Homo sapiens: one gene and its partners. The protein of the gene in region 4 interacts with the protein of the main gene of each other region in a pairwise test. Each region holds a gene or a part of one and is shown on either strand. Other genes may lie near its edges. The genes, in order: RCN3, UBQLN4, SSX2IP, KLHL42, KRTAP19-4, ADD1 and STXBP4.

What was found.
Region 1: the proteins of KLHL42 (region 4) and RCN3 interact in a two-hybrid assay, tested with the Homo sapiens proteins (one large-scale study listed by BioGRID and IntAct).
Region 2: the proteins of KLHL42 (region 4) and UBQLN4 interact in a two-hybrid assay, tested with the Homo sapiens proteins (one large-scale study listed by BioGRID and IntAct).
Region 3: the proteins of KLHL42 (region 4) and SSX2IP interact in binary tests that used the Homo sapiens proteins (3 or more experiments, as listed by UniProt).
Region 5: the proteins of KLHL42 (region 4) and KRTAP19-4 interact in binary tests that used the Homo sapiens proteins (3 or more experiments, as listed by UniProt).
Region 6: the proteins of KLHL42 (region 4) and ADD1 interact in a two-hybrid assay, tested with the Homo sapiens proteins (one large-scale study listed by BioGRID).
Region 7: the proteins of KLHL42 (region 4) and STXBP4 interact in a two-hybrid assay, tested with the Homo sapiens proteins (2 studies listed by BioGRID and IntAct).

Annotation. Positions count from the first base shown.
Region 1 is NC_000019.10:49,531,003-49,534,502, forward strand, and holds part of RCN3 (reticulocalbin-3 precursor), read left to right. Parts: intron 1-3,190; coding exon 3,191-3,393; intron 3,394-3,500. UniProt on the Homo sapiens protein: Probable molecular chaperone assisting protein biosynthesis and transport in the endoplasmic reticulum.
Region 2 is NC_000001.11:156,043,799-156,047,298, reverse strand, and holds part of UBQLN4 (ubiquilin-4), read left to right. Parts: intron 1-3,075; coding exon 3,076-3,301; intron 3,302-3,500. UniProt on the Homo sapiens protein: Regulator of protein degradation that mediates the proteasomal targeting of misfolded, mislocalized or accumulated proteins.
Region 3 is NC_000001.11:84,648,962-84,652,461, reverse strand, and holds part of SSX2IP (afadin- and alpha-actinin-binding protein), read left to right. Parts: intron 1-464; coding exon 465-579; intron 580-1,934; coding exon 1,935-2,100; intron 2,101-3,500. UniProt on the Homo sapiens protein: Belongs to an adhesion system, which plays a role in the organization of homotypic, interneuronal and heterotypic cell-cell adherens junctions (AJs).
Region 4 is NC_000012.12:27,786,733-27,790,232, forward strand, and holds part of KLHL42 (kelch-like protein 42), read left to right. Parts: intron 1-1,306; exon of another isoform or gene 1,307-1,476; intron 1,477-3,500. UniProt on the Homo sapiens protein: Substrate-specific adapter of a BCR (BTB-CUL3-RBX1) E3 ubiquitin-protein ligase complex required for mitotic progression and cytokinesis. The BCR(KLHL42) E3 ubiquitin ligase complex mediates the ubiquitination and subsequent degradation of KATNA1.
Region 5 is NC_000021.9:30,496,324-30,498,418, reverse strand, and holds KRTAP19-4 (keratin-associated protein 19-4), read left to right. Parts: upstream 1-1,253; 5' UTR 1,254-1,308; coding exon 1,309-1,563; 3' UTR 1,564-1,595; downstream 1,596-2,095. UniProt on the Homo sapiens protein: In the hair cortex, hair keratin intermediate filaments are embedded in an interfilamentous matrix, consisting of hair keratin-associated proteins (KRTAP), which are essential for the formation of a rigid and resistant hair shaft through their extensive disulfide bond cross-linking with abundant cysteine residues of hair keratins.
Region 6 is NC_000004.12:2,846,844-2,850,343, forward strand, and holds part of ADD1 (alpha-adducin), read left to right. Parts: intron 1-3,500. UniProt on the Homo sapiens protein: Membrane-cytoskeleton-associated protein that promotes the assembly of the spectrin-actin network. Binds to calmodulin.
Region 7 is NC_000017.11:54,975,265-54,978,764, forward strand, and holds part of STXBP4 (syntaxin-binding protein 4), read left to right. Parts: intron 1-3,500. UniProt on the Homo sapiens protein: Plays a role in the translocation of transport vesicles from the cytoplasm to the plasma membrane. Inhibits the translocation of SLC2A4 from intracellular vesicles to the plasma membrane by STX4A binding and preventing the interaction between STX4A and VAMP2.

The DNA of each region.
Region 1 (3,500 bases), on a different chromosome or scaffold from region 4:
AGTGGGAGGTGAGGGCAGAGAAGGAGCAAAGGGGTTCAGCATGGTGGTTCATGTGTGTGATCCCAGCACTTTGGGAGGCCAAGGCTGGGGGATCACTTGAGCCCAGGAGTTCAAGACCAGCCTGGGCAACATAGTGATACCCCGCCTCTACAAAACAAATACAAAAATTAGCCCAGCATGGTGGCGTGCTCCTGTAGTCCCAGATACTAGGGAGGCTGAGGAGGGAGGATCACTTGGGCCTGGGAGGTCAAGGCTGCAGTGAGCCAAAATCATGCCGCTGCACTCCAGCCTAAGCAACAGAGCAAGACTTTGTCTCAAAAAGAGAGAGGGCCAGGTGCAGTGGCTCACGCCTGCAATCCCAGCACTTTGGGAGTCCAAAGCGGGCGGATTGCCTGAGACCATGCAAAGGGGGTCAGATCATGCAATGCAAAGCCTTTTAGGCCACGATGAAGATTTAGGCTTTTCTCCAATTGAGAGTAGAACTGAGGGAGGGCATGAGCTGACTTAGGTTTTGAGAGAATCCTGCTGGCTGCGAGGTGGGGAACAGACTGTAGGGAGCAAGAAGCAGGGAGCCCAGTGAGGAAGCGACTGCGATAGTCCAGGTGGAAGACAAGACAAGATGGTGGTCAGATCAGGGTGGAGACAGTGGCAGTGGTCCCCAGGACTGCTGGCTGGGAGATTGTGCTTGGATGGGCATGCATGAAGGAGAAATGGAGGAAGAAGGGCAGTGACAGGTTAGCACATTTAGCTTAGCACTAATGGCAATGCCAGGCATTGTCCTAAGTGCTTTATTATTGTTATTATTATTATTATTTTGAGACGCAGTCTCGCTCTGTCTCCCAGTCTGGAGTGCAGTGGCGTGATCTCGGCTCACTGCAAGCTCCACCTCCCGGGTTCATGCCATTCTCCTGCCTCAGCCTCCCGAGTAGCTGGGACTACAGGCGCCCACCACCACGCCCAGCTAATTTTTTTGTATTTTTAGTAGAGACGGGGTTTCGCCGTGTTAGCCAGGATGGTCTAGATCTGCTGACCTCGTGATCCACCCACCTCGGCCTCCCAAAGCACTGGGATTACAGGCGTGAGCCATGGCGCCTGGCCTTTTTTTTTTTTTTTTTTTTTTTGAGACAGAGTCTCACTCTGTCATCCAGGCTGGAGTGCAACGGCGCGATCTCGGCTCACTGCAAGCTGCGCCTCCCAGGTTCACGCCATTCTCCTGCCTCAGCCTCCCGAGTAGCTGGGACTACAGGCACCTGCCACCACGCCCGGCTAATTTTTTGTATTTTTAGTAGAGACGGGGTTTCACCATGTTAGCCAGGATGGTCTCGATCTCCTGACCTTGTGATCCGCCCTCCTCGGCCTCCAAAGTGTTTTTTGTTTGTTTGTTTGTTTTTGAGACAAGGTCTTACTCTGTTGCCCAGGCTGGAGTGCAGTGGCACGATCTCGGCTCACTGCAACCTACGCCTCCTGGGTTCAAGCAATTCTCCTGCCTCAGCCTCCCGAGTAGTGGATATTACAGGCATCCACCACTGTGCCCGGCTACTTTTTGTATTTTTAGTAGAGACGGTTTCACCATGTTGGCCAGGCTGGTCTGGAACTCCTCACCTCAGGTGATCTGCCCACTTCGGCCTCCCAAAGTGCTGGGATTACAGGCGTGAGCCACCGTGCCCGGCCTATTATTGTTATTATTATTTGAGACGGAGTCTCGCTCTGTTGCCCAGGCTGGAGTGCAGTGGTACTATCTCGGCTCACTGCAACCTCCACCTCCCAGATTCAACCAATTCTCCCGCGTCAGCCTCCAGAGTAGCTGGGATTTCAGGTGCGTGCCACCATGCCCTGCTAATTTTTGTATTTTTAGTAGAGACAAGGTTTCACCATGTGGACCAGGCTGGTCTGGAACGTCTGATCTCAAGTGATTCGCCTGTCTTGGCTTCCCAAAGTGCTGGGATTACAGGCGTGAGCCACCGCGCCTGTCCTGTCCTAAGTGCTTTACATGGCCTAACTCATTTATTCCCCACAACCGCCCTTTTGGGGTAGGTACCGTTTTTTCTTCCTCCGTTTTACAGAGGGGTAACTGAGACACAGAGAGGTTAAGTCACTTGCCCACAGTCACACAGCCAGTAAGAGGAAGTGGCTGGATTTGGACCTAAAATGTCTGGCTGTGGAGCCCAAGCGCTTAACAACACCAGGAACCTCAGAGAAGGGTGTGATTCCGGGGACAGAGTGGGGCCCTAGACAGACTGGAGCAGAGACCGCCTGGTGCGGGAGGTGGGGCGGTGACTCAGGCAGGCCTGGAGAGGGCTCTGCTGTCTCGGATTTTCGACTTTAGGGAGGGGGCCGCGGGGGCCTAGGGACGGTGACAGGGAGGAGGGCTCCAGGTAGTCTCTGTTAATTAGAGATTGGGAGAGGACCGGCCTGGCAAGGCGTCACCAAGGGAGAGGAGAGGGGCCCGAGAGCTGATAGGCGTGGCCCAAGAGAAGGGGAGAGATGGAACCTAAAGTGGCTTGACATGCGACAGGGAGGGGCACAGGAGCCCGGAGGAGCATGGGGAGGGGCAGAGGGAGACTGAGCCCCCGGGGTTGCGGGTGATGGTCCTCAGGCAGTGCCTGATTCAGCCGGGAGCAGGCAGGGGAAAGCCACGGGGCTCAGCACAGGGCAGGGCTGGAGGGAGAGGAGCCTGAAATTGACACGCGCAGCCTGGTAAGGGGGAGGGGCATGGGGCGGGTCGGGGCCTGAGACAGCGGGGGATCGGGGGTGTGGCCGTGGCTGTCTGGGTTCAGAGTCAATCTTGCAACAGGGCCCCCTTGGCAAGGGTCACAGTGCGACGCCGCGCTCCCCTTCACCACCCCAGCTCGGCCCAGCGAGAGGTGCAGCACGTGCAGGCCGAGGGCGGGGCCGGCGCGGAGAGGGTGGCCCTGCATCGTAGTAGGTCCCTCCCCCGCAGTGCTCCCAGCAGGCCCGCTCGTTCTGGAGAAGGGCGTGACTCGACCTGGGGGTGGACCCTAGGCTGAGGGGTAGGGTCCTCCGGTGGGCTTGGTCCCGAAATTGACCCGCGCCCCTCCCCAGTTAGCCCGCGGACCGTGGACTGTATTTTCAGCCCCGGATCCGAAGTGTCCCAGGGGGCGTGGCCCGTGCGAGGGGCGGGGCCTGGGGGCGGGACCAGAGCCTGACGTGTGCCCGCCCCGGCTTCTAGGCGGATCGTGGACCGCATGGACCGCGCGGGGGACGGCGACGGCTGGGTGTCGCTGGCCGAGCTTCGCGCGTGGATCGCGCACACGCAGCAGCGGCACATACGGGACTCGGTGAGCGCGGCCTGGGACACGTACGACACGGACCGCGACGGGCGTGTGGGTTGGGAGGAGCTGCGCAACGCCACCTATGGCCACTACGCGCCCGGTACGCGGCGAGCCCCCGACCCTGCTCCCCATACACCGTGACCCTGACCTTCTGGACCGCCTCATTCTGAGAACCCTGAACCCATTTACCCGGAGTCCCTGGCCCCT
Region 2 (3,500 bases), on a different chromosome or scaffold from region 4:
GCACTCTAGCCTGGGCGACAGAGTGAGACTCCATCTCAAAAAAAAAAAAAAAAAAATTCACAAGTTACACAAAGTAAACAAAAGGGTATTCCAAAAAAGTATGGAAAAGTATACAGGCTAAAAAAAGGTTTACAGAAGGGATCCCTCTGTTTCCATCTCCCAGCCAGCTCTTTTCTACCTCAGTGGTAACTAATGTTGTTAGTATCTTGTTTATTTTCCTAGACATATTTAATATTTGCAAATAAGACATAGGTAGAGTTGTAGCCTTTACAAACCCCTCCCCTCTCCTATTCTTTTTCTTTCCAGAGGTAACTAGTATGCTGAAGTTGAAGTTGGGGTTTATCATTCTGATTCTTTTATTACCTATGTATATGTCTATAAACGTCTATATATTATCATATTTTTAAATATGAGGTGGTACCATGCTGGTCTTATTATTTTAACTTGCTTTTGTTTTGAGACAGAGTCTCACTGTTTCGCCCAGGCTGGAGTGCAATGGCGCGATCTCAGCTCACTGCAACCTCCACCTCCTGGGTTCAAGCGAGTCTCCTGCCTCAGCTTTCTGAGTAGCCGGGACTGCAGGCTTGCACCACCACGCCTGGCTAAGTTTTGTATTTTTTAGCAGACACAGGGTTTCACCATATTGGCCAGGCTGGTCTCGAACTCCTGACCTTGTCATCTGCCTGCCTCGGCCTCCCAAAGTGCTGGGATTACAGGTGTGAGCCACTGCACTTGGCTGCTTTTTTTTTTTTTAATACAACCTTTAAAAATGTTTTGTGTTTTTGGTTTGTTTTGTTTTTTTGAGACGAAGTTTCACTCGTTGCCCAGGCTGGAGTGCAATGGCGTGATCTCAGCTCACTGCAACCTCCGCCTCCCGGGTTCAAGTGATTCTCCTGCCTCAGCCTCCCGAGTAGCTGGGACCACAGGCGCCCGCCACCATGCCCAGCTATTTTTTTTTTTTTTTTGTATTATTAGTAGAGACGGGGTTTCACCATGTTGGCCAGGCTGGTCTCGAACTCCTGACCTCAGGTGATCCACCCACCTCGGCCTCCCAAAGTGCTGGGATTATAGGCGTGAGCCACCGTGCCCGGCCTAAAACTGACAAACTTTTAAAATATTTGTTTCATTTAAAAATGACAATTTATTACAAGTTGGTGGAGCGTAGTGGCGCATGCCTATAATCTCAGCATTTTGGGAGGCTGAGGCAGGTGGATCACCTGAGGTCAGGAGTTTGAGACCAGCCTGGCCAACATGGCGAAACCCCATCTCTACTAAAAATACAAAACTTAGCCAGGTGTGGTGGTGGGTGCCTGTCATCCCAGCTTCTCAGGAGGCTGAGGCAAGAGAATTGCTTGAACCCTGGAGGTGGAGGTTGCAGTGAGCCGAGATTGTGCCTTTGCACTCCAACCTGGGCAGCAAAACGAGACTCCATCTCAAAAAAAAAAAATTATTACAAGTTAACATAAATAACATTATTTTGAAAAATAACTTTATTTTCCAAAACAAACAAAACTGTAGAGGAAAGTATGGACTTGTTTTACATTTTTGTAGTTCTCTTTGATGTCTAGCTTACTACAAGACAGCTGGTTCTCAGATCTGCATTCAGTTTGCAATGTCACATGTCATGTAGACTTTGGAAAACTCCACTGTATCCTCATGAGAGAATAAGAGTGAAAAAGACAAATTCATGTCTTAGAATTATGAAAACAGTTTTAATGCTTGCAGGGGTCCCAGGACCACACTTTGAGAACTGTTGTATTAGAGGAGTATTATAAGCATTAGAATAAATGTGTCAGGCACATAGTAGGTGCTCAATAAATGATGGTTGTTATCACTGTGGGTAGTTCAGGAAAAGAGATTTCGTCCTTAGAGTGTACCAGGAAGAATAAAGCGAGCCCAGAACAAGGTGGGGTGAGGTGCTAGGCAAGTATCAGAACAAGAAATCTGAAACAGGCACAGAGGCTGAAACCATGGTGCATGAACCCTGGCCTGTGAGCTCTGTTATCTGAACAGGATCTGGTGAGGTGAAGGAAACAGCTCAGAGTAGGAGAATCCTTGGTTAGCCCCGGTCCCCATGACCCACTTTCAATGAACAGGAAAAGCAGCTCAATATGAAACCCTACGGTGGGGAGGGGCTGAGGTAGGACCACCTGGGAACTCAGGAAAGAGAGCTGCTGAGCTCTTAGACCACAAGAAAGGCTGAGTAGGGAAAACTGAGTCTGGGACTCCCTCAGCCAGAGCTCTGTGCTAGGTGCTGGAGGGGAGGAGGTTCCGGTGTTGCCTTTGGGAAGCACACCATCCCATGGGGTATGGACCTGAGATATCCTGGGGAGCACAGTGAGGAGCATGGTAGGGCAAGGGGGACCAGAAGTAAACTGAGGCCTGTCCATCTGAAGTAGCCAGTGTGTAGAGGTAGGGTTTGGAGCAGGAGGGGAAAACCTAGAGAGGGCATATTCTGCTGGAGGTGTGTTCTGCTAGGGGCCGCCACTGTGGTGTGCCTGGATGGACAGAGAATGCCAGGTAGGGGACCTGGGGAGTGAGGGAAAGGTTCTGGGGAGTTAGGATTAGTCCAAGGAGGCTGGGGAAAGGGAAGATCGGGGTTCAAGTAGAGAGCCAGGTTTGACAGCCCACTCCCATTAAGCCAGTAGTTAGTTATTGAGCACCTACTAGTGTCGGGGCTGGGGGTGCACAGGCAAATCTGACATTGCCTCTGCCCCTTGAGGTACAGGAACACAAATATTTGGCTACACAATGGGAAAACTGTGTGTAAAGTGCGGTGGGTTACATAGGAGATGATTAGAGACCAAATATTGAAAGCCACCGGGGGGATGGGAAGTTTCCAATTATCTGAGAGGTTCAGTTATCCAGTCACTAGCATCAGCTAGCTCCCACCCTATGGAGCAAGGAAGGAGCTATCCATTGTGGGGCAAAGAACTGAACTGAGGACCTCTAAGGTCTTAGATCTCTCTCCCTTTTCTGGGGAAGGGGAGGCTATTAAGTGAGAGGAGAGAATGGGCCTAGCCCTTGTCCCTGATTTGTTTCAGTCCTTAACCCAAAACCTTTCCCTCCTCCCAGTTTGGCAACAATCCCTTCTCTTCCCTGGCCGGGAACTCCGACAGCTCATCCTCCCAGCCTCTGCGGACTGAGAATCGAGAGCCCCTCCCTAACCCCTGGAGCCCCTCGCCCCCCACCTCCCAGGCCCCCGGGTCCGGTGGGGAGGGCACCGGAGGATCGGGGACCAGCCAGGTGCACCCGACAGTCTCGAACCCCTTTGGGATCAATGCGGCTAGCCTGGGGTCAGGTATGTCCTAGGATGGAAGGAGCTTAGTGGGGTCACCAGGGCAGCCCCTCTGTCCCAGGACTGAATGGGGTTCATACTGCTCCAGGATTTTGAAGACAGAGGTGAGACTATCGAGGCCACAGAGGGGGCTCTGCCGTCTGGGATAGTGGCCGGGTGAGGGCTGGTTCTGGCCATGTCCTGATATCCCTAGGAGTGACCT
Region 3 (3,500 bases), on a different chromosome or scaffold from region 4:
CTGCGCCCGGCTTTTTTTTTTTTTTTTTTTTTTTTTTTGGAGATACGGTCTTGCCGTGTCACCTAGGCTAGAGTGCAGTGGTGCTATCTCGGCTCACTTCAGCGTCAACTTCCCAGCCTCTAGCCATCCTCCCTCCTCAGCCTCCAAAGTAGCTGAGACTGTAGTCCTGTGCCACCATGCCCAGCTGATGTTTGTATTTCGTGTAGAGACAGGGTTTTGCCGTGTTGCCTAGGCTGGTTTGGAACTCCTCAGTTCAAGTGCTCCACCAACCCTCAGCCTCCCAAAATACTGGGATTACAGACGAGTGCTGAAATTATTTTTAGTTTTTTAGGTTAACTCATTTGACATAAGAAGTACGAATAGATAGCCAGAGAGCAAACAAAGATAGCTAGAGCAATCATGTGAAATGGCAACTGTGTGGATGTTGAAATATTGATCATTATTTCTTTGGCTGTTTATGGTAGAGAAAGGCATTTGAAGAAGAAAGAGCCAGTTGGTTAAAGCAGCAGTTTCTAAATATGACTACCTTTGACCACCAGAACTCAGAAAATGTGAAACTTTTCAGTGCCTTCTCAGGAAGTGAGTACTTTATAAACTCTTTAATTTGAACATGCATATAAATAAAATTATTTACATATTACAAAATACTACATATTATTAATACAAAACTTTGGAAATCACCAATTAGAGCTCTCTAATTATAACTAAAAGTCAACTTTTTTTTGTTTGTTTTTGAGACGGAGTCTTGCTCTGTCGCCCAGGTTGGAGTGCAGTGACGTGACCTTGGCTGACTGCAACCTCTGCCTCCCAGCTTCACGCGATTATCTTGTCTCAGCCTCCTGAGTAGCTGGGATTACAGGCATGTGCCACCACGCCTGGCTAATTTTTGTATTTTTAGTAGAGACGGGTTTTTACCATATTGGCCAGGCTGTTCTTGAACTCCTGACCTCAGGTGATCCACCCATCTCAGCCTCCCAAAGTGCTGGGATTAGGCATGAGCCACTGCGCCTGGCCTAAAAATCAACTTTAATATTTTATTTACTGTAGTGAAAGTGAGGATGAGAGGGGGACTGTGCATGCCCAAAGTAACTTTTGTTGTGAGTTTGTAATAATGCGAAGTTTTTGAAAATTTACATTGAGAATTTCTTTTTTCAAGATGTAGTCTTGCTCTGTCACCCAGGCTGGAGTGCATCTCGGCTCTCTGCAGCCTCAGCGTCCTGGGCTCAGGCAATCCTCCTTGCCTCAGCCTCCTGAGTAGCTGAGACTATAGGCACACACCACCATACCCAGATAATTTTAAAAACTTTTTTGTAGAGACAAGCCCTCGCTATACTACCCAGGCTGGTCTCAAACTCCTGGCTTAAGCAGTCATTCCGCCTCACCTTCCCAAAGTGCTAGGATTACAGGTGTGAGCCACCCCACCCAGCCTAGAAATATTTTTAAAACTAGATCCTTTTGGCTGGGCACGGTGGCTCACGCCTGTAATCCCAGCACTTTGGGAGGCCGAGGCAGGTGGATCACGAAGTCAGGAGATCGAGACCATCCTGGCTAACACAGTGAAACCCCGTCTGTACTAAAAATACAAAAAAATTAGCCAGGCATGGTGGCGGGCCCCTGTAGTCCCAGCTACTCGGGAGGCTGAGGAAGGAGAATGGCGTGAACCCAGGAGGTGGAGCTTGCAGTGAGGCAAGATCGCATCACTGCACTCCAGCCTGGGTGACAGAGCAAGACTCCATCTCAAAAAAAAAAAAGATCCTTTTAAACATGGGTGGACTATGCAACAAAGATAAGCAAGATTAATGATAATTAATTTGAATTTGTTCCATCTCTTTCCTCACTCAGAACCGCAGATGAATCATCCTGATGATTTACCTTCACTATATTTAATGCCTCACCATATGTACTGCCTTTTTCTCTTACTTGTTTTACAACAGGTTCTGATTGGGACAATCTTATAGTGCACTCGAGGCAGCCGCAAAAGAAGCCTCACAGTGTGTCTAATGGGTCTCCAGTTTGCATGTCTAAACTTACTAAATCTCTTCCTGCTTCACCTTCCACTTCAGACTTTTGCCAGACACGTTCCTGCATATCTGAACATAGGTATTTGTCTATAGGTGATCTTTTCACGTGTTTCTAAAAATTGCTAAAGTTGCACTGCTAAGGGAAAGGTGGCATGTCTGTAGTATTAGCAACAATAGAGATTTTGGAGAGGAATTTAGTAGATGATTTATTCATTCTACAAATATTGAGTGTCCAGTATATATAGACACTGTGCTAGATGCTGGAAATACACTAGTGAACAGGTAGATCTGTTGTCTTCTTGGAGGTAAATCATATGATGTGTGTCTTTTTATTTCACATTTAAGATACAATTTAGAATGTAGTCTTAATTATAGGAGTTAATATTTTAAGCACTTTAATTGTATTAAATGGAAGGATATTGTTTTGACAGTTTTTGTAGAGTACATATCTTAACACTTTTTTCCGGCATGCCCATTTTATTGTTGTTGAAGGGCAAAGAACTGAGAAAAGCCTGTTCCTGTTGAGTGAAAAAGATTTGTGCCCAAGGATGACAGTGTAAAAAAACATGGCTCTCCACCCTGGGAAACCCATATGTTGCTCTTAATTGCTACATTTTGGTGTTTTCCTGTATCTCAAGTTATTATATCATTTTCTAAGATAAGATCAATACTCTGCTTCAGTGCCAATTCCAAGATTAGTTTTAAACGAAGAAGAGGAAGCAGGTAGAACATTCCTAGTAAGACAGAGAGGAATAGAAAAGATCAGAGGGGTAAGTTGGAAAGTATGGTGGTAATCTCTTTGCTCTTAATTAAAAGTAGGAGATAATGGCCTTGGAAAACAGTCAGAGCTGAAGCAAACTCGGCCTGTGTTAGAGACTGGAGTGGAACTAAGTGTCGAAGAAGCCAGCTGGCCCTTGGGCCAAGAATTATGAAATAGATGGAGTTTAAAACAAGAAAGGAAGCTTTTAAAAGAAGGAGGAGAACACACTATAAGTTGTAGTTGACTTTTAAGAGGTGGGGGGATTAGGACTCCAAGTAAATGTTAGAGGGGATGAAAAAGAGCTAGGTAAGAGCACTCTAGCCAAGTGTAGGAACCCTGAGGGTGGGACACACCTCATACATTTGCAATGGTGACCAAGACCTAGAGGTGTGAGATGAGGATGGAGAGATGTAAAAGTTCAAATATACAGAGAGGATAAGATCGTGAACCCACGTGTACCTATGACTCAGGTTCAGCAATTATTAACTCTGATCAATATTGTTCATATATAATCCCACTCTGCTTGCTCTCTCCACCCCAGCCCCAACACATCTGGGATTTCATTTACAGAATATTTTAGTGTGCATTTGCAGGTCAAATATTGTTCTAAGGGGAATAGAAAAAACACTAGTTTTAAGCAAGAGAGTGAAAAAAAGTCTTAAGTTTTAAAAAGATTACTGTTTTATAATATTGAAAACAGATTGTAGGAGTCTGTAATA
Region 4 (3,500 bases):
TTTTTTTTGAGACAGAGTCTCGCTCTGTCGCCCAGGCTGGAGTGCAGTGGCCCAATCTTGGCTCACTGCAAGCTCCGCGTCCCGTGTTAACGCTATTCTCCTGCCTCAGCCTCCCGAGTAGCTAGGACTACAGGTGCCCGCCACCATGCCTGGCTAATTTTTTTTTGTATTTTTAGTAGAGATGGGGTTTCACTGTGTTAGCCAGGATGGTCTCGATCTCCTGACCTCGTGATCTGCCTGCCTTGGCCTCCCAAAGTGCTGGGATTATAGACATGAGCCACCGCGCCCGGCCAATTGAGAGATTTTATAAAGCCTTCTGCACTCTGGAGAAGATAGTGGGTGCTATATGACCATCAGAGGGTAAAAAAGAAATGTTTTGCTCTGTAGGCCAAGTGTGCAACACTGCCTGATGGTCTGAACGTGGGTTTGATCTCACAAATTGTCAGGATGTAACTCTTCACACATAAAAGCTTGTGAGACCTCTAGGCACGGCGGCTCACACCTGTAATCCCAGCACTTTGGGAGGCTGAGGCAGGCGGATCACCTGAGGTCAGAGGTTCGAGACCAGCCTGGCCAACGTGGTGAAACCCTGTCTCTACTAATAATACAAAAATTAGCTGGGCATGGTGGTGGGCACCTGTAGTCCTAGCTACTTGAGAGGCCGAGGCAGGAAAATCGCTTGAAACCGGGATGGGGAGGTTGCGGTGAGCCAAGATCAGACCACTGCACTCCAGCCTGGGCAACAGAGTGAGACTTTGTCTCAAAAAAAAAAAAAAAAAAAGCTTGTGAGATCGAGGGTGCTTGCTTTCCCTTTAATCAGTGATAACTTGCAGGAACTGACCACTGTTGCAGCAGTTGGTTCATTAAGGTTCTCCATTTCCAGAGCTTTCTCTAGTCTTTTCCATTGCCCTGCACTTTAGCTCTGAAAATGGAGTTGGAGTGAGTCCTCCTGTTCCATGTGTGAATACAGCAAGGCTGAGAGAGAGACTTTAATAAACAAGTGTCTCCTGGCAGAGATGGAATTGCAGTTGTCAGCCTTAGCGTTTGCTGAGCTGTCCCTTCTCCTCTCAGCCAATGTTTACCATTTTTGGAGCATTTCTGTGGTTGATGTTGTAGTAGAGCCTGGGAATAGTGCAAGAAAGAAAACTGTACGTCTATTCACACTCCCCCCCAACTCCCCATTTAATTTTGGCCAACAGTTTAAATTGCTTTTTGCATCTTTGCTTTTGGAGTTTCTTAGAGCTGGGCATAGGTTGCAACAATGACTACCTCTATTTTCTAACCTTTCCCCTTCTCCCCTTCCTAGTCCCTAGGGGAAGTTAATGCGTAGGGACATGGCAGAAGGCAAGTAGATGAAGGGGAAAGAGGAGACAAAAGGACCTGGATGGCCCACAGACTTAAGCAGTCGTGTTCTGAGTGGTTGAGAAAGGACTTTTGAAAGGATCTTGGCATTTTGTTCTAATTTTTACTCTGATGGTAAGCAAACTTCTTTCTCTACATAGGGGGTCATAATGATGGTTTTCATTTCTTGAGCTCTTACTCTGGGTCAGGTATTGTAGTCACAACTTGAGGTGTCACTTCATATTAATGCTCACAACATCTCTGTGAGGTAGATGTTATTAATCCCATTTCCTTAAAGTGGAAACTGAGGCTCAGTGAGTTTAATTACCTTCCACATAATCACAGGGCTAGACTCGAAGCCACCCAGACCTCTGTGTCATCTTGCCTTCCTATGGTTGTATGTAGCTACTGTTAATCCTTGAGATCTGCGTGCTGGTGTTAAGCATGTTTCATGTTACTTAGCTTTTAGGGGTTTAAAGAGCTTTTTAAGCCACGCACGGTGGCCTAGCTACTTGGGAGGCTGAGTCAGGAGGATTGCTTGAGGCTGGGAGTTCAAGGCTGCAGTGAGCCATGATCAGGCCACTGCATTCCAGCCTGGGCAATGAAACGAGACCCTGTCTCTTAAAAAGCTCTCCTTTTAAAAAAAATTTTTCTTATAAGTGACCTTGAAATTCAATTGTGGTTTTATCCAATTTTCTCACTTAAAACAGAAATTCTAATGATAATATTTTTATTTATTGCAAGGAACAAGTATATAGCTATGATAGATGACTTGTTACTTGGTCTTGAAATTCTTCTTTTTACCTCGTGAACATAGTGTGTTAAATTAAGAAAACACTGTAGAGATGATAATTTTGAAAAGTAGTTGATAGCTTGAATTTATACCTTTACCATTCAGGAGGTGAAGAGTGGAAGAATTATTTTCAGAAAGTTGGAAATGAAGCAGTAAGTGATGAGAATTTGTGGATGAGAGAGCACAAAACATCACAGTCAGTGACTGTTGCAGTTGACAAATGAGAAACCAACGCTCCCAAGGTTAAGAAAAACTTAGACTTAGGACACCCAGAGAAGCACTCCCTAGAATGCCAATGGAGAAAGACTTATCTCTGCAAGTGCTGTCCTTTTCAGCTCTTACTGCATGCCAGATATTGTGCCCTTCTTATCCCTACTTAACAGATGAGAAAACTGAGGAACAGATCAACAGATTCAGTAATTTGTCTAAGGTCAGACAGCAATTGATGTGTGATGTCTGAGACTTCCCTGTGTAAGCCTGGACTCATAACCTTTAGCAGTATGCCTCTTTATTAAATGGTCTGTTTTTAGGTGGCAATTTCATCTTAAAACAAATTCAGCATTAAAAAGTGTTTCTCTTCAAGTGAATTTGAGCGTGTTGGGGTCTGGAGAGATGGAATCATTTACTTTAACTGCCTATTCATTGGTCTCAAAAAGAAGCCCCTTACATGTTTGCTTAGGACAAATGATTATGCTGGATAAATACTAAAAACTGTTTTGATCTTACAAAATTTACTATCTGTGTACCTTTGGGGAGCAAAAACAAATTGCGGCTGGGAAAATTTAGTGCTTGTTTACAAGCTTTATTTCCTTTGGTTCCCCAAATTTGCACACACAGAGAGGGCATCATGGTTGGATTTTAAGGACCATTGGCAGCAAGAAAGGTAAGCAGCAGGAATCAGGGACCCCCCAGTACCTGCCACCCTGACGTCTGTTGGCACAAAAAAGTGGGCTGGCTGGCTGGCTGGCTGGCTTTAAGGGACAAGACGAGGCTCTTGATGAAGAGTACTCTATTCACGCTCTGATTGGAAAAACAAACTAAAACACATTTAGATATAAACATGATAGGAACCTTTAAAAAATCTTAACTGTTTAGTAGGTGCCTATTACTAACCTAGTTTCCATAGTGTAATGCATCAGTTTTATTGAACACTTTTTAGGGGATCAAGCATGGGCTTCTTGTTTACTGCTTCTTCTTAATCTACTCCCTTATATAAGTTTTTTGTGTGTGCATAGCCTCTACCTCCATTCTTTCTTAGTATATTATTATTTTTGAAGACATCATTGTGTTGGGGTTGGATGTGGTCTTGAAATTCACTTGGTCTAGCACCTTTATTTCAAACACTAGAAAACAGAAATTTGAATGA
Region 5 (2,095 bases), on a different chromosome or scaffold from region 4:
GACAAGATCTTTTGAAGCTGTTGTTAAAAACTGGAAAGAAGATTATCTCTAGGGAATGATATTTGCCATAATGGAACAATGGAAACATTTTGGAGATTAGAGTGTGCTTGGTGTAGGTAGTGTAAGCACATATGCAAAAATTCATCAAATTCATCACACACACACACACACACACACACACACACACACACACACACACACATACACCTTTTTCTTCTCAGGAAATACCATGCTAGTCCACTAAGTTGTTAAATGTTTATTAAGGTATAGGATATATAAAAAGATAATTTAAATATAAGGGCTCTTTGAAATTCAATAAGATACCATTAACATTAGAAATGTTTTCAGAATCTCCAAAATGTAGGTATAATATTACAAGATAACAGGCAGAAGAAATAACTGAGGGTGCAAGTCCTCAGTTGACTCCAAGAATTTAGTCACATACAGCCACAGGTGACCCCAAATATTGTTAATTCAGCTGTGCCCTTAATTTCAACTTTGAGCTTTTAAGTTCTTTTTAACCTTATATGATCTCAAATACAGTGATCAGTTATTTTTAGTCTTATAAGTAATTTCCAAATGTTGTGCTTTCACAACTGAATTTGCATGCCTCTTTGCAATAATTACCTTGTAGTAACAACACAATACATAAATGCTGAAAGGATGAATAAATTCTAAAGTCTATGCCTCTCAAAGGCATGAGTAATTCTCTGGCTACATCTGAACAATAGGGATTTAAAGATGAAATGAAGGCTGGGTGAGGTGGCTTATGCCTCTAATCTCAGCACTTTGGGGGTCGAGGGAGGAGGGTCACTTGAGCCCAGTAGCTTGAGACCAGTCTGGGCAAAATAAAGAAGACAAAGAAATGAGCTCCAATAGCATCTGACTTTAGAGGAACATATAACCTTCATTTTATTTCATTTGTAATATGCAATATGTCTAGCTATGAAGAAATCTATTTAGGATCTGGTATGCCAAGACTTTAGATACAGCAATTTCTTCTCATTAAGTGGTGTGATAACTTTTAAGGGCCACTCCAATTCAGCAACAAAGCAAACTCAAACAATTTAACGATTGTGAGGGCCTCTCCTTGTGCCAGGGAAAAATGAATGACTTGTGTTAAGTAACTAATTTAAAACACACACACAGACACACACACAACAAACAAACAAAAAAACAAAAAAAACAGGTACGCATGTGACTCATCACATACTCTTATCAGGGTATATAAGCCTCCCTCTACACGTGCTGCCATTCACACTTAGGATCTTGCCTTGAGCAGCCAAACAACTCACCACTCCTGACGCCATGAGCTACTATGGCAGCTATTACAGAGGCCTGGGCTATGGCTGTGGAGGCTTTGGTGGCCTAGGCTATGGCTATGGCTGTGGATGTGGCAGCTTCCGCAGACTGGGTTATGGCTGTGGCTTTGGAGGCAACGGATATGGCTACTGCCGCCCATCATGCTATGGAGGATATGGATTCTCAATTCTACTGAAATCCTACCCTGAGGACACGATATCAGAGGTCATAAGAAGATCATTCAATTTAACCAAATATTGAGTCAAACAAGGGCACACTAGATCAATCCAAGATGAAAAAAAATAGCATCTAAGATGTTAGGAATATTCATTATGTTATAATTGCCTATATCGTGTCTACTGGCATCCACTACCTATACTTTCCTAACTGTGTAATTGCTTAGTTCCCTTTGCAATAAATTGTCTCAATTTGAAATGGCACACATGGCTTCTGTTTATTTATTTGTCTATTTGTTTAAATGCTGACTCTCAATTCCATTGCATATTTCTTTTCTTGATGCTTCCCAATAATCTTAAAATTCTGGTCTTATATTCGTGTAACAATCACAGCTGAGTTTTGAAGATTAGTCTACTTTTCACAGTATATGCCTCTTTTTATTTAAGATTTTGATGAATCTTGAACCTCTTAATTTCTAGCATATCTAGATCTAAATAAAAGTTATTAGTAAATAATGATAAATTCAAATGGTATAAAAAATTAAGAAGCATTAGAAAGACTCAGACTTGTTTACTAAACATAAGAATAGGTTTATACAGCCAGCTAGTAAGACCCA
Region 6 (3,500 bases), on a different chromosome or scaffold from region 4:
GTGGTGGCTCACACCTGTAATCCCAGCACTTTGGGAGGCCGAGGCGGGCGGATCATGAGGTCAGGAGATCGAGACCATCCTGGCTAACATGGTGAAATCCCGTCTCTACTAAAAACGCAAAAAATTAGCTGGGCGTGGTGGCGGATGCCTGTAGTCCCAGCTACTCGGGAGGCTGAGGCAGGAGAATGGCGTGAACCCGGGAGGCGGAGCTTGCAGTGAGTGGAGATCGCTCCGTTGCACTGTAGCCTGGGCGACACGGAGCGAGACTCCGTCTCAAAAAAACAAAAACAAAAACAAAAAACAAGCTAGGTGCGGTCGCTCACAATCCCGGCACTTTGGGAGGCTGAGGCAGGTGGATCGCCTGAGGTCAGGAGTTTGAGACCAGCCTGGACAACAGTGAAACCTCATCTCTACTAAAAATACAAAAATTAGCTGGGCATGGTGGTGCATGCCTGTAATCCCCACTACTAGGGAGGCTGAGGCAGGAGAATCGCTTGAACCCAGGAGGCGGAGGTCGCAGTGCCATTGCACTCCATTCTGGGCAACAAAAGCGAAACTCCGTCTCAAAAAAAAAAAGGAAGTAAGACTAGGATTCTACTCAACCTTCTCATTTTTATATACCTGTATCTACTTTTCTTCTAAGCCAAACATTTTGGTTCTACTTGCTCACTGTTTCAACCCACACCGTACACATTTCAGTCTCAGAACAAGATGAACACGTGAACCTCGAAAATTTGAGACAGGTCTCGGTTAACTTAGAAAGTTTATTTTGCTAGTGTTGAGAATGTGTGCCTGTGACACAGCCTCCAGAAGTCCTGATTGACATGTGCCCAAGGTGGTTGGGCACAGCTTGGTTTTATACATTTTAAGGAGACATGAGACATCAATCAATATATGCTAGAAGTACATTGGTTCAGTCCAGAACGGCGGGGACAGCTTGAAGCAGGGAGGGAGCTTCCAGGTCACAAGTAGGTGAGAGACAAATGGTTGCCTTCTTTTGAGTTTCTGATAAGCCTTTCCTAAGGAGGCAACCAGATATGCATCTATCTCAGTGAGCAAAGGGATGACTTTGAATAGAGTGGGAGGCAAGGCTGGGCATGGTGGCTCACGTCTGTAATCCCAGCACTTTGGGAGGCCGAGGCAGGTGGATCACCTGAGATCAGGAGTTCGAGGCCAGCCTGGCCAGCATGATGAAACCCTGTCTCTACTAAAAATACAAAAATTAGTCAGGCTTGGTGGTGGATGCCTGTAATCCCAGGTACTCAAGAGGCTGAGGCGGGAGAATCACTTGAACCCAGGAGGCGGAGGTTACAGTGAGTTGAGATCGTGCCATTGCATTCCAGCCTGGGACAGAGTGAGACTCCGTCTCAAAAAAAAAAAAAAATAGGAATCTTAACATAGCATAATATTAAACTTTAATAGAGTTGTTTAATTGTTAATGCTTATTCTGGCCTTTCTACATTGAGGAACCTTGAGTTTAAAGGAATGAGGGGAAGCACATTTAATACAGTTTGCCTTTTGAGCTTAATTTTTCTAGAAGTACCTTTTTAAACAGTTGTTATAACTAATGTGTAACACTGTTTTTGATAACTGTCAGCTTAAACATGTTGAGCATATATTTATTTAATTAATTTATTTTTTTTGAGACAGACTCTTGCTCTGTCACCTAGGCGGGAATATAGTGATGTGATCATAGTTTGCCGCAGCCTTGAACTCCTGGGCTTAAGCCATTCTCCCACCTCTGACTCTGAAGTAGCTAAGACTGCAGGTTCATGCCAACAGGCTTGGCTAATTTTTTTTTTTTTTTGAGATAAGGTTTCAAAAGCCTGAGCTGTGTTGCTCAGGCTGGTCTTGAATTCCTGGTCTCAAGTGATCCTCCTGTCTCAGCCTCTGAATATGCTAGGATAACAGGCATGAGTCACTGCACCTGACCTGTTTCCAGGTTTTTACTGTTATAAGCAGTGCTCCAATTAATATTACATCTCCATATTGGGCACTTATGAGGTACATCTATAAATACATTCTCAGAAATGAAATTGCTATGTCAAAGAATAATTGCACTTTTCATTTGCATAGACATTTCCAAATTACCCTCCTGGCCCCAATTAATATTCTTACATTTCCATCTTTGGGCACCTATGAAGTATATCTATAGATACATTCTCAGAAGTGAGATTGCCATGTCAAAGAGTAATTACACTTTTACTTTCCGTAGATGTTTCCAGATTATCCTCCTAAGAAGTTACGTTGGTTTATACTCCTACCAACTGTGTATTTTCTCCACATAATTAAGTATGGACACTAAAGTAACAATAGTCCCTATCTTACATGGTTATTGTGAGGATTAAATGAAGTAAATGCCAAAAGGTACCTACTAAGCTGTCAGCAAATGACTTATATTATTAATATAATTATTGTTTTTTTCTGAACTTTATTACCAGAAATATTATAAACCTAGACAGTGCTTCATGAGGTTGGGAAAGAGGGTTCATACAATTGATCTGAGCAATATATGCCTCCAAAATACTGTTATCTGTATTAGAACAGACGAGCTCTGCATCTAGGCCTTGGGCCCAGGGAGTCTGGCATCTGGGGCTGACGTTAGGGGACAGAGTCCACAGGTATATCTCAAATTTGCTGGAAAGGGCATGCCTCAGGAATGGGGCGCAGTAGATGTAACTACATGTGTGCCTCTGCAGCCTGGAATGGCAGCTGTGGCTGTTTGCATGGGGAGGAGAAAGTCATCATTTGGGAGGGACCTTTAGAATATCCCATCCCAAACACTTCTCTCCTTCTCTTACTCTGAAGGGCTTAATTTAAATTTGCTTTGTGGATTAACGTATTGAGAATGATTTAGGGAGTTCCTTACCTAAAAAATGTTTTCCCTCATCTGCACACTGTCGCTTGAAATTTATTTCACAGGAGAGGGAGCCGTAACCATAGGCAGTGTGGTATTATGAAAGGAGTACTGGCTCTTCACTATGGGTTTACTGTGGTTTGCTGAGGGTAGTTGAGTGGGTGAGAAAGTCACTTAGCTGCCCCAAGCCTCACTTTTCTCCATCGGAAAATTAAGTAGCCATGTAATACATGAAAGAGAGAATGTTGTGAAAACACTTTGAGAATGCAAAGGCCAAGTGAAAACATATGTCCGTACAAAAGCTTGTGTGTGAATGTTCAGAGCAGCATTATGTTTAACAGACAAAAAGTGAAACACCCCAGATGTCCATCAGCTAATGAGTGGATCAACAAAATGTGGTCTGTTCATACGATGGAATAGTAGTTGGCAATAGAAAGGATTGAAGCACTCATACCTGGTACAACATGGATGAACTCTGAAAACATGCTAAGTGGAAGAAGCCAGACACAAGAGACCATGTGCTTCATGATTTTACTTATGTGAAATGTCTTCAATAGGCAAATCTTTTTGTTTTTTGTTTTTTGTGAGACTGAATCTCACTCTCTTGCCCAGGCTGGAGTGCAGTGGTGCGATCTTGGCTCAC
Region 7 (3,500 bases), on a different chromosome or scaffold from region 4:
AGTAGTAGCTGGGATTACAGGCGCATACCACCATGCCCTGCTAAAAATTCTTAATAATTATTTAACATGGGGCCTTGCATTTTCATTTTGTATTGGGCCCTGCAATTTATGCAGCCAGTCCTGGTCAAGATGTAAATAGATATAAATATAGATAGAGATGCAGATACAGATATAGGCACAATATTATATCTCAAATGCACTGACAGACAGTCTCACATGATTCAGGCCAAAGCACAGTCTAATTACGTGATTTAATTATGTGATTAAAGGCAAAGGCAGAAAACTAGGGAAAGTACAAAAGTGGAGAGCCTTTAGAGCCTTTACTTTTAACCTTTAGAAGGTTAAAGGTAAGAGATAAAGGGAAAGGCAAATTCAGGTCTCCTGAGAATAGTCAGGTTAAGTGAAATATGATCAAAACTCCAAACTTGCTACCATAGCCCATAAGACCCTAGGAAATCCAGACCCTGCCTACTTCTCTAACCTTATCTCCTACCACTCTCTCCCTGTTCACCACACTCCAGTTGCACTTCTTTCTTTTCTTTAAACACCTCAAGTTTGTTTTACTGCCCTCAGACCTTTTCTCTGCCTGGAATGCTTTGTCCCTCAGCTTTTTTCACAGATGACTTATTATTTGGATCTTAGCTGGGACACCCTCCCCAGTCTAAATTAGCCCTTCTCTCCTTAGTCACATTTGCTATCACCTTTCAATATCTGAAATCTAGTTCATTTAATTGTATCTTTTTTTTATTGTTTTTCTCCCACCACTAGAATGTAAATACCAAAAGAGCAATGATCTTGACTTGTTCACCATAATATCACATGCCCTTAGTGTTGTACCTGCACATAATTGTACTGAGTTAAAAATTTGGTGGATGAATGCATGAATGAAAGCAAACAGAAGGCAGTCCGGTAGCCTAAGGAAACTTCTGAGAGCAGTGAGCTGTTGTGCTGATGAAGACTCCTTTCAAGAAGACTAAGACTTTCTTTGAAGTAGTTTTCTGATGTTTCCCACTGAGTTGGGCTGTGTGTTACAGGCAGATGCTTATGCATCCTGAAATAGGACCAATTGTCCCATAGAACTGATATTAATCATTTCTTTGAATAAGCACAGAAATTGATTCTCCCATTGTTAAAACTTGAGAAAGTTAAATTTGTCTTATCTGAGTTACTTTCTCAGGAAACCAACCATCAGGCCTCCCAGATACTATCAAGAAACTGAAACTTACCAGATCATTGCATCTGGACAATATGATACCAGACCCTTCAGCCATCATGACTGCCTTACCCAGGGGTACCCAGTCCTTAGGCTGCAGACTAGTAGCCGTCCATGGCCTGTTAGGAACCCGGCCAGACGGCAGGAGGTGAGTGGAGGGCAAGTGGGCATTACCACCTGAGCTCTACCTCCTGTCAGATCAGTGGCAGCATTAGATTCTCCCAGGAGTGAGAACCCTATTATGAATTAGGCATATGAGTGGTCTAGGTTGCATGCTCCTTATGAGAATCTAATGCCTGATGATCTAAGGTGGAACAGTTTCATCTGGAAACCATCCCCCACACCCCCATGCGTGGAAAAATTGTCTTCCACAAAACTGGTCCCTGGTACCAAAAAGGTTGGGGACTGCTGGCCTAACCAATCACTTGCTACCTGTTGACCAACTCCTCTTCCTTACCCCTCCCTAATTCCTGTTTTCCCACACATACTTACATTTTTTCCCTGCCATATAAGCCCCTAATTTTAGCTCGTCAGGGAGAGGGATACAAATTTCCCATCTCCTTGGCTGCGGCACCCAGTTAAAGCCTTCTTCCCTGGCAATACTCCTTTCAGTGATTGGTTTTCTGTGTAGTGAGCAACAGGACCTAAACCGAACCCCTGGCATTTTGGTAACACCCCCAAGACAAATGAGTAGCATTTCTGAACTCGTTAGATTCTTGAAAGAAAAAAACATGCACTAGTAAACAGAATATTGCCTTTGGGTACAGAATAAAAGATAATAAAATACAGTTGGCCATCAGTATCCGCAGGTTCCACATACACAGGTTCAACCAATCACAGATTGAAAATGAACATTAGGCCTACAATGGCTGTGTCTTTACTGAACATGTACACACTTTTTCTTGTCATCATGCCCTAAATAATATAGCATAACATATTTACATTGTGTTTTGTATTATAAGTAATCTAGGGATGATTTAAAATATAGGAGAGGATATGCATAGGTTATGTGCAAATACTACACCATTTTATATCAGGGACTTGAATATCTTCTAATTTTGGTATCTGCAGTGTCCTGGAACAAGTTCCCTGAAAATACTGAGGGATGACTATAACTCTTTGATCTTTTATATATTGGTTTCCTGAAACTTTCATGTCATTTAAAAATGATCAGTTAAGTTTAGCCCAGGGAAAATAGTCATTCCTGATTTTGCCAATTTTCTTAAACAACCTTAGGATTATATAAATAGCTGATGTTATCTTGAGGAATCTCTGCTGTGATAAGGTATAAAACAAGTTACCAGTTTCTAAATGCTGTCATTTTTGTGTCTCCTCAAGTATAATACATCCAACTTTATAGGAAGAAATATTTACATTTTTAATATTAGCTTTAGTGAATAAATAAATAGTAGGCATTTCTAACTTGTCAGTCCACAGAAACCAGACAGATTATTTACTGAGCAGCCAACATCATTGTGCCCTCTTCCTCTTTTGAAATGACCTTAATGTGAAATGTCACTACACTAGTACACTTTTCCCTCCACTCTAATCCCTCCCAAATGACCAACTGCAGCCTACCCCATCCCATTCATGGGTCATACTGATCTTAGAGGTGGACGTATATTTTAAAAAGAAAATCGTTCCCTCAAAAAACATTGGGAGACTTGTAGTTTAATAAGCCTGCCATAAAATTTTTGATTTGTAGAGCCAAGAAAGAACCTTTAAAGATCATTTTATGAATGATTTTGACATCGTACATATGAAGACTAGGGAGCAGAGTAAGTGGCTGCTCAAAGTCATATGTCTAGTGGGCATCTACCCTCTGGACTGGTACTCTTCCCAATGCAATAAAAAAAACATGAAATATATGTACTATGTAATATGTACTATGAGCTTCTTTGCTATGAGTCATCTTTCTTTTTAAATTATAGCAGAAAATAAGTGTATTTATTTCTACTGCCTGTCAATTTGCTTACAAAGGAGTTGTCATAAGAAGTTATTTAAAGGATGTAGCTGAATTTCTTTGTGAAACACCAGATCTATGTTATTTTCTCTTTTAAATTGCAACATTTGTTGATACCTTAGCAAATGAAGATGAAAGAAGAAAATAACATAAAGGGTAAAATGACATTAAAGGAGACATAATTAGAAAGAGCTGATATTTAGATGCCAAGAAGGTACACTGGAACATGGTAACTTTTTTGATATTTTTCCTTCTTTATCCAAATAATATATCAAAGTATATATCCTTGTTGTAAGCCATTCAAAAAATAAAGAATAACTTAAA